2 separate regions of the Homo sapiens genome follow, and region 1 is linked to region 2. The links come from fine-mapping of genetic effects on gene expression. A gene starts in region 2. The other region holds a variant in brackets. All regions are shown on one strand. Distances are from middle to middle.

What was found. PIP is the estimated chance that this variant, and not a neighbour inherited with it, causes the effect. A credible set is the group of variants that fine-mapping cannot tell apart.
Region 1: its variant is the best candidate, but not a certain one, in a credible set for the expression of NME5 in lung (TOPMed, PIP 0.88).

What each region holds. Positions count from the first base shown.
Region 1 is chr5:138,114,077-138,119,457 of GRCh38, forward strand. NME5 (NME/NM23 family member 5) reads right to left here. Exons shown (of 6, transcript NM_003551.3): 5 at 4,742-4,860; 6 at 1,099-1,688. The coding sequence ends at 1,605. It overlaps LOC124901208 (small nucleolar RNA U13), which reads right to left and starts at 1,228; the gene lies at 1,126-1,228. It also overlaps the pseudogene RNU6-460P. The variant C/G (reference allele first, on the strand shown) is at 2,305.
Region 2 is chr5:138,136,879-138,142,195 of GRCh38, forward strand. It overlaps NME5 (NME/NM23 family member 5), which reads right to left and starts at 2,550. Exons shown (of 6, transcript NM_003551.3): 1 at 2,493-2,550; 2 at 1,774-1,907. The coding sequence starts at 1,902. BRD8 (bromodomain containing 8) reads right to left here. Exons shown (of 27, transcript NM_139199.2): 26 at 3,827-4,004; 27 at 2,892-3,288. The coding sequence ends at 3,196.

The DNA.
Region 1 (5,381 bases), 23 kb before region 2:
CTGCCTCAGCCTCCCGAATAGCTGGGACTACAGGCGCCTCTGCCACCGCGCCCAGCTAATTTTTTTTGTATTTTTAGTAGAGACCGGGTTTCACCGTGTTAGCCAGGATGGTCTCGATCTCCTGACCTCGTGATCCGCCCGCCTTGGCCTTCCAAAGTGCTGGGATTACAGGCTTGAGCCACCGCGCCCGGCTTATTTTTCGTAATCTTAATGTTTCTTTTAATCACAAAAGTAGTTACATAAATGCTGTAGAAAAATTTAAAATACAGCTAAGCAAAAGAAGAAAAATAAAATATTTCTACCATCCAGAGATTATAGATAAAAACACTTGAGTGGGTATCCTTCTACATGTTATTCTATACACATTTATTTATTCATTTTTTAATCTAAATGAGAACACATGGCTGGGCACAATGGCTCATGCCTATAAACCTAACACTTTGGGAGGGCGAAGCAGGAGGATTGCTTGAGCCCAGGAGTTTGAGACCAGCCTGGGCAACATAGCGGGACCCTATCTTATTAAAACAAACAAAAAAAACCAAAACCAAACCAAAACCAAATGGGCGTACACTGTGCATATTGCTTTGTAACATACTTTTTTTCAGCTAACAATCTTTCTGTTTTCACATTTTCTTACATTATACTTTCTTTTCTCTTTTTTTTTTTTTTTTTTTTTGAGACAGAGTCTCGCTCTGTCACCCAGGCTGGAGGGCAGTGGTGCGATCTCGGCTCACTGCAAGCTCCGCCCCCTGGGTTCACGCCATTCTCCTGCCTCAGCCTCCCGAGTAGCTGGGAATACAGGCGCCGCCACTACGCCCGGCTAATTGTTTGTATATTTAGTAGAGACGGGGTTTCACCGTGTTAGCCAGGATGGTCTCGATCTCCTGACCTCGTGATCCACCCGCCTCGGCCTCCCAAAGTGCTGGGATTAGAGGCGTGAGCCACCAAGACCGGCCGTGATTGTGGTTTTTGCCATTGTTTTTTAATGACAAAAACCATAATTGCTTTTGCACCAGCCTAATAGTTATCCAAGTGATTAGTTTAAGATCATCCCCTGGTTCTGGCCATTTTCATTGTACCAAAAAATTACTTATATACTTACACCTTTCTATTTTTTATTTTTTACATCAAACAGGTAATGTGATGATGCTGTAACAAGGTTTGAGGGAAGCATATCTGACACATGAGCATGAAACCAAATCACCATGCTTATGGACTACAAAAGGACCTAAGCCTTTTAAACTAGACTGTCTCAACTGTGCATTAATTATGTATTTAGATATAGGATATGTGCTTGGGAAAATGTATAACTAAACTTTATGTCTTACTTCTCAAACTTAAGAAAAACAAAAACATCTAGCAACATCTTACATGAGTTTTCCATTACCTAGTGTTACATCATTGTTAAAATCATACTCTAAGCCTATATTTTACCTTAATGTTATCTGCTTCATAGAATAGTTATTCCTTTAACACTTATTTTTAAGAAATAAATTTATTTTACTTGTAGTTACTTAAACCCTAGAAATAATTTTTTCAAACAGTAGAAGTACAGCCTTTTATAATAAGATAGTTCATGATTTGTTCTTTCGAGGATTTTTTTTTTAATAAGGTTCTTCTACAATTGGATGGTGACAAAGTTTGGGTTTGTTAGGATTATTTTTCAGCAGCCAATCAGCTAGCCAAATCTATGGGAAAAAAAAAAACAACCTAAGTTAAGAAACAGTTACATATTTCCTTTCAATATATACTATATCAATTGGAAACTTAAACAGTTTTCAAAATCACTTTAAGAAAATGACCATTAAAAATGGAAACATTTGGATTTACATTATGCAAGATTGTCAAGAATAGATCCAAACTGGCAAGAAAGAAGTAAAACTATCTCTTTTCACAGATGGCATAAACCTACATGTGGAAAACCCTAAGGAATTTACAAGGAAGCCACTACAGCTAATAAATTCAGCGAAGATGTAGGTTACAATACACAAAAATCAACTGTATTTCTATACATCAGCAATGACAGTCCAAAAAAAAATTTTAAATCACTTTCATTTACAGTAGCATAAAGACAAATAAAATGCCAAGGGATAAATTTAACCCAAGAAGCGAAAGGCTTATACATTAAGAACTGTAGAACATTGCTGAAAGAAATTAAAGAATACCTAAATAAATGAGAAGACATTATTTTTCATGGATACGGAGATTTGATATTGTTAAGATGTCAATACTTCCCAAAGCAATCTACAGATTCAGTGCAGCTCTTGCCAAATGTCCAACAAGTTTTTTTGCAGAAATGGAAAG[C/G]CAATCCTCAAATTCATATGAAATTGCAAGGGGCTCTGAGGAGCCAAAACAATCATGAAAAAGAACAAAGTTGGAGGACTGATTTGTACTCTCAATTTCAAAACCTTCTACAAAGCTACAGTAGTCAGCACAGTGTGGTAATGACATCCTTATGCCAGACATGCAGACCAATAGAATGGACCTGAGAGTCCAGTGCTCTCTTCGGCAGCACATATACCAAAACTGGAATGATACAGAGAGATTATTAGCATGGCTCCTGTGCAAGGATGATGCACAATTTATTAAGCATTTCATATTTTAAAAAAAGAATGAGAATCCAGGAATAAACCCACGCATCTATGGTCAACAAATTTTTGACAATGGTACCAAGCCCATTGGTACCACTGGACTTGGAGAAAGAACAGTCTCTTCAACAGATGGTACTAGGACAATTGGATTTCCACATGCAAATGAATAAAGTTGGACCCCTATACCACACCATATACAAAAATGAACTCACAATGGACCAATGACCTAAATATAAGAGCTTAAACAATAAACATCTTAAAAGAGGCCAGTGACTCACACCTGTGATCCCAATACTTTTGGAGGCCGAGGTAGGAAGATCACTTGAGACCAGGAGTTCAAGACCAGCCTGGGCAACATAGGGAGACCCCATCTCTACAAAAAATTTTAAAAATTAGCTGGGTGTGGTAGTGTGCTCCTGTGGTCCCAGCTACTTGGCAGCCTGGTGCACAAGAATCACTTGAACTCAGGAGGCAGAGGTTGAAGTGAGCCGAGATGGCGCCACCAGACTCCAGCATGGGGAACAAAGACCCTGTCTCAAAAAAAAAAAAAAAAAAAAAAGGAAAGAAAAAAAATCTTAAAAGAAAACATAAAACACAGGGGTAAATTTTCATGACCTTGGATTTGGATTTCACAATGGATTCTTAGACATGACATCAAAAGCACAAGAAATAAAAGAAAAAATAAATAAATTGGATTTCATCAAATGAAAAATGTTTATACATTAAAGGACATTATCAAGAAAGTGAAAAGACAACCTACAAAATGGAAGACAATATTTGCAAATCATATATCTAATAAGGGTTTAACATCTAGAAATACAAAGAACTTTAACTCAACAAAAAGACAACCCAGTTTAAAAATGGGCAAAGGACTTCAATTTGAATAGACATTTCTTCAAAGAAGGTATACAAATGGCCAAGAAGCTCATGAAAAGATGTTCAACATTAGCCATTAGGGAAATGCAGATCAAAACCACCGTGAGAAACCATTTTGTGTTATCTACTAGCATGGCTACAAAAAAAAAGAAAGATAGGTCGGGCGCGGTGGCTCACACCTGCAATCCCAGCACTTTGGGAGGCCAAGGCAGGTGGATCACCTGAGGTCAGGAGTTCGAGACCAGCCTGGCCAACATGAAGAAACCCTGTCTCTACTAAAAATACAAAAATTACCCGGGCGTGGTGGTGTTCGCCTGTAAATCCCAGCTACTCAGGAGGCTGAGGCAGGAGAATCACTTGAACCTGGGGGGCGGAGGTTGCAGTGAGCCCAGATTGCGCCTCTGCATTCCAGCCTGGGCAACAGAGTGAGACTCCGTCTCAAAAAATAATAATAATAAATAAATAAAACACAGCAAGAAAATAATAAGTAATCAATAATTATACATATCTAACATGTATATGAAATACCTTCTAGAAATGTTTATTTTAAAAAGGTTCTCAATATTTGCAGTATTTCATTTATTTACTTATTTATTTTTTGAGATGGAGTCTCGCTCTGTTGCCCAGGCTGGAGTGCAGTGGCACAATCTCGGCTCACTGCAAGCTCCGCCTCCTGGGTTCACGCCATTCTCCTGCCTCAGCCTCCCAAGTAGCTGGGACTACAGGCACCCACCACCACGCCCGGCTAATTTTTTATATTTTTAGTAGAGATGGGGTTTCACCGTGTTAGCCAGGATGGTCTTGATCTCCTGACCTAGTGATCCACCCACCTCGGCCTCCCAAAGTGCTGGGATAATAGGCGTGAGCCACTGCGCCCAGCTATATTCGCAGTATTTCAAAGACACAATGTCTTAAACGTGAAAACTACAGACAATTTATAGAAAAAAAAATTTTTTTTTTGAGATGGAGTCTTGCTCTGTCACCCAGGCTGGAGTGCAGTGGCACAATCTCGGCTCACTGCAACCTCTGCCTCTGGGTTCAAGTGATTCTCCTGCCTCAGCCTCCTGAGTAGCTGGGATTACAGGCACATGCCACCACGCCCAGCTAATTTTTGTATTTTTAGTACAGACGGGGTTTCACCATGTTAGTCAGGCTGGTCTCAAACTCCTGACCTCGGATCCGCCCGCCTTGGCCTCCCAAAGTGCTGGGATTACAGGCATGAGCCACCACGCCTGGTGACAATATTCTTAAGTGTGAATAAAAATATTTCTTACCAAAGGATCTGCTGGTTTTTGCTTACAAAGCTCTGTGAGTCCTTCAAGCAGAGTTGGCATTATATGTAAATTTAAATAGTCCTTAGCAGCTTGTCCAATTGGAATGGGCTCAACAATCACTGCAAATACAAATGTATTCTCATTGATGCAAACATAATGATTAAATACTATACAATCATTAAAAAGGTTCTTTTTAAAGAACTTTTCTCTATTTTTTTATATGTTTTTTTGAGATGGAGTCTTACTCTGTTGCCTGGGCTGGAGTGCAATGATGCAATCTCAGATCACTGCAACCTCCTCCTGGGTTCATGTGATTCTCCCACCTCAGCCTTCCGAGTAGCTGGGACTACAGGTCCGCATCACCACACCCTGCTAATTTTTGTATTTTTATTTATTTTTATTTTTTGAGACAGAGTCTCGCTTTGTTGCCCAGGCTGGAATGCAGTGGCACAATCTCAGCTCACTGCAACCTCCAACTCCTGAGTTCAAGTGATTCTCCTGCCTCAGCCTCCTAAGTAGACAGGAGTGTGCCACCATGCCTGGCTAATTTTTGTACGTTGAGTAGAGGCAGGGTTTCACCATGTCGGCCAGGCTGGTCTCAAACTCCTGATCTAAGGTAATCCTCCTGTCTCGGCCTCCC
Region 2 (5,317 bases):
GTGATCAACTCACCTTGGCCTCCCAAAGTTTTGGGATTACAGGCATGAGCCACCGTGCCTGGCCTTGTTGATATAATCTTATCAATCTTTTCTTCCATGGCTCCTAGACCTTAAGTCATAACAAAAAAAAAAAAGGCTGTCCTACTCCAACAACAAAATAAATCCATTATCTTTTCTTCCTGAACTTACATGGTTTAATTTTTTTAATATGTAGATCTCAGGTTTATTTGGAGTTTATCCTGGTATATAATACTTGATCCAAATTTTTCAGTGGCTACCAGTTTTCCTAACATTTACTAAAAAGTTATTTACCTGAGTCTTTAATCATATTAAATACTTCCTAACACTTTCTTGTGCCATCCCTACTCTCGGACTCCACCTGTCCTTTGAAGCTCAACTGAAATTCCGTATCTTTTCTGAAGATTGATATTTTCTCTTTATTTATTTATTTATTTTTTGAGACAGATCTCCCTCTATTGCCCAGGCTGGAGTACAATGGCGTAGTCTTGGCTTACTGCAACCTCTGCCTCCTGAGTTCAAGCGATTCTCCTGCCTCAGCTTCCCAAGTAGCTGGGACTACAGGTGCACGCCACCACGCCCAGCTAATTTTTGTATTTTTCATAGAGATGGGGTTTCACCACATTGGCCAGGCTGGTCTCAAACTCCTGACCTTATGATCCACCCATCTCGGCCTCCCAAAGTGCTGGGATTACAGGCGTGAGCCACCGTACCCGCCATTTTCTCTTTATTTTTAAAAATACTGACTGAATAAGCAATATGACACTGTATAAATGGGAGAAAATAAAAAATTGGAAGTTCGAATGAGAATACTGTAAAAGAGGCGGGGTGCAGTGGCTCACACCTGTAATCCCAGCACTTTGGGAGGCCGAGGCGGGTGGATCACGAGGTCAGGAGTTCAAGACCACCCTGGCCAACATGGTAAAACCCCGTCTCTACTAAAAATACAAACATTAGCTGGACATGGTGGTGCATGCCTGTAATCCCAGCTACTCAGGAGGCTGAGGCAGGAGAATTGCTTGAACCGGGACCTGGAAGGCAGAGGTTGCAGTGAGCCGAGATCGTACCACTGCACTCCAGTCTGGGCTACAGAGGGAGACTCTGTCTCAAAAAAAAGAAAAAAAAACTATAAAAGAGGAAGATTAAAAATATTCAATTCTATTTGATTTATCCTTAACAATGCTATTTATATTCACTTTCAAACCCCTAGAATGACAATGTTTACTAATTGCAGAACATAAGGCTTAAAACATTAAATGTTATGCCATAACTGAAAAAAGTACCAATAGCCTAAAATTCCATCAATAGAAGATCAAGTAAATAAATTGTAGTTCTAATACACAGGGAAATATTACACAGAAATTAGGAAGAGTGAGATCAATTCAGATGCAATGATCTGGAATCCTATCTGAGGGACTCTGTAAAGGGGTCAAGGGAAAGGGACTGTTCTGTTTTATGGGGGGAAAATGTTTATAAATGCATAGAAAACTCCTGGAAGAACAGAAAGTGTTAAGTGGTTGCCTCTCTCTGGAGCCTGGGACTTGGGGTAAAAGAGGACAGGTGAAGGAAAAGTCCATTTTATTTCTCATTTTACATCCTTTTAAAAACTATCACATATAACTTTTATACTTAGAAGAATAAACTTAAATTTAATGCTGAACACTAAGGGTTTAAATGGGTAGGCACATTTACATAAGCATTTTTTTTTTAAGGGCAGAGAGGAAAAAAGCATGAATCATCATACCCAGAAGTTACCTGAACAATGGTGAATCCGGATCTAAGAATAATATCTTGTATCTCCTCCTCTTTGTCAACAATATCTGGTTTGATAATGGCCAGAGTTTTTTCTACATATATCTGAGGTGGAGGCATTGATATCTCCATTATGGCTTTTCAGGGCACAAATTAAGAGTTTCTTAACAGGTATCAACTGCAATGACATGCATTTCCCCCCACCCCCATCGCAAATTCAATGTAATTATGATTAAGAATAGCAATAGTAGGTACTTGATTTTATTAACTGATGAAGGTAGAAACTGCCATGTTTTTCTATATACAGGGTCTCAATAATAGGATTCCTACTATGTCCAAATCGAGCCCCGGCTTTTCGTATACGATGTCACCAAGGCAGGAAGGACTATGGGCTCACATAACCAGAGGCCAAGGGGCGACCCGAAGGCCTGGAACCAGCAACAGCCCCAGGCAGCAGAGGGCGGTGGGGCGGGTGGTGGGGGCTCGAGGGGGCGGTAGAGCGGGTGGTGGGGGCTCGAGGGGACGGTGGCTGGTGGGCAACCACACACCATTACAGCGGCGGGTGAGCGGCCTCGGCCAGCTGCCTCTGTGAAGCGACCCTGTCCCGCAGGGACCTCTCTGTGCATAGGGTCAGGCTAATTGAAAAGCAGGGCCTCTAGGTCCGCGGGGACTTTCCGGGTTGCACCTGCAAATTCTGAATTTGACCCTCTCTAAGTACTCACCTCAGCGGCCGTCCTCATATGGTACAACTTGTTGCTAGGAGACCTGAAGCCCCAGCGTGGGGACGGTGGCTGCAGAGAGCCAATCCCAGCAAGGAACCTTGCAGCTTCTGGCCAGTTCGTTTTAACCAAAGGGAGCCAGCCAGTCACTTTTATTCTCCTTGTGAATCTTAGAGCACTAGATGTTTTCTGACATTTTACTCATAATTTATCTTATTTCATCCTTCTTCCCGTTTGAAGGATGCTTCAATTATCCCTACTCTATAAATGATAAGAACCCCTCCCCCAACCATTCCTTTCCAGGCGGTATATGTAAATGACCCGTGTCAGATACCTTCGTTTCACCAGATGATGCTGTGCCCTCTATGCCCAGCTTATCTAGTCATTAAAAAGCAATATTCCTATTGTGTAAATACATTTATTTATAGAGTAAAAGGCTTAGAAAAGATCTAATGGAATTGTCTTTAAATCAAGCCGATGGAACAAAGATGTGGGCAACATTTATGGCATAAATCCAAACCTCAGCTTCCCCTTTTTTTCTTTATATTATGTCCACATGCATCTTTGACTCGTTGGTTGTGAGTTAAGGTATTATTCTTGTTGGAAAAGAAAATGAGGACATGGCAAAGAAGTACCAGGATCCTCTCTAGGTCAGAGTTCCGGGAGAGATTCAAACTCTAGAAAAAGTCAGGATAGCAGCTCCAGGTTAGAAAACAGGTTTTCCATCATCCACTGGGTTAGCTGGTTCTCCTTCCAGACTACTTGAGCCTTTTCTTTTGTCTAACCAGATATTCAGTACCTAAAGGGTTAAGGAACACATAGCAAGCTATTATGAACCTTAAACACTAAAGTATTGCAAGTTTATTTTTTTGGCAAATAGACTCAACTATACTTTTTTCTTTAAAGTATGATGCTACCCAGAAAAGAAACCCACAAATGTCTTCTAGCTACTATATCTTATCCCCTAAAGATGGGAAAGTGTGAACGTACATTAATAACAACAGATGAAGCAACCAAAAAATACACAGTGACTCCAGCCTCTTTGGAGTTTAGCCCTTGACTTGAGGCTCTGGAAGCGGGAATTCCCATTACTTGTCTATCCTCAGCTCTCTTGAGAGCTCTTCACTGCTGCCTGCATTCCTAGACTACTTCACTATCAGAGCTGGACTTACTGAGGCTCAGGGTTTTCCAAACCAGCAGGCACATTATCAATCCTTCAGGGCCTTAATCACCTTTAAAAATAAACTCTGAGAACACAGTCACCTCGAAATCACCTTTATTCTCATAGGCGTTCTGAAATCAAGATTCCAGAGGCTACAGGTATCTGCATACAGTACCTGAATCTGCTCCAGGACTTCTTGCCGCATCTCCACAGCCATATGGTATACATGATGATCAGAGTCATTGTACATTACAGCATTTTGGAACATCAGCATCAGGTCTCGCAGGAATTGGGCCATGGTGCGAATCCGACCCTTAGAGAGATTTCTCTTCAGGCTAGTTAAGTCCATGGGTCTGCAGGTGGCCAAGAAAAAACAAAGAAAATCAAACCTTCATGTGGAACATATGATAACCTAACACGTTCTCTTGAAGAACTAACCAGTTCTTAATGAAAACAGTAGCAAAGATAACAACCCTCATCAGATAATAAAATAGCAACAGCAGTTAATATTTGCCTGTTTACAATGGGCCAAACACTGTATTTCTATACTAACTCACTTAATCCTCTCAATAAACCTGTAAGGTAGGTATCATTAATATCTCATTTTTTTTTTTTTTGAGTCGGAGTTTCACTCTTGTTGCCCAGGCCGGAGTGCAATGGAGCAATCTCAGCTCACTGCAACTTCCACCTTCCAGGTTCAAGCAATTCCCCTGTCTCAGCCTCCAGAATAGCTGGGATTACAGGCGTGCGCCATCATGCCCAGCTAATTTTTGTATTTTTAGTAGAGATAGGGTTTCACCATGTTGGTCAGGCTAGTCTCGAACTCCTAGCCTCAGGGGATCCACCTTCCTTGGCCTCCCAAAGTACTGGGATTACAAGTGTGAGCCACCGCCCCCGGCCTTATTATCTCCATTTCACAGATGAAGAAATTGAAATCTAAAGAGGTTAAGTACTCACTGAAAGGCACACAGCCTGAATTCCAATTCAGAGGCAGCCTGACTCCAGAGCCCACAGGTCAAGCCACTATATTCTACTATCAGAGGAGGAGTGCTGGCCCCAGGTATCAAAGTTGTAAAGAGCACCAATCATCAGTTTATCACACAGTAGTTATTTGCTGTTTACAATGTATAGTCATATATTATTTCATCTACTTCTCTTACTGCACAAATAAAAAGCTAAGAATAATTTTTTTCTCCTTTCATGGAGATGAAAAAAGGATCAAGTGAATATTAAGACAATATTAATGAGACACAGAAAGTAGATATATAAGAGAAGGCACAGCAGTGTAGAAAGAAGACTGAACTGCAGGTAAGAATCTGGGGCTTAGTTCTAGCTCTGCTATTAACTGTTGGTTGATCACGAGCAAGTCATGACCAAGCACCTCTGAGCTTTAGTTTCCTCATTCCTAAAGAAGTTTGTCTCTGCTGTTTGAATGATGGTATCATTGTCTCTGCTGTTTGAATGATGGTATCCCCTCCAAAATTCATGTTGAAACTTAATCCCAAGTGCAACAGTATTAAGAGGTGGAGCCTTTGGGAGGTAATTAATTCATGAGTGCTCTGCCTTCATGAATGGGATTAGCATCCTTATAAAAGGGCTCCATATCGAAGAGAGTGCCCTCTTATCCTTCTGTCCCTTCTGCCATGTGAGGATACAGCATTCGTCC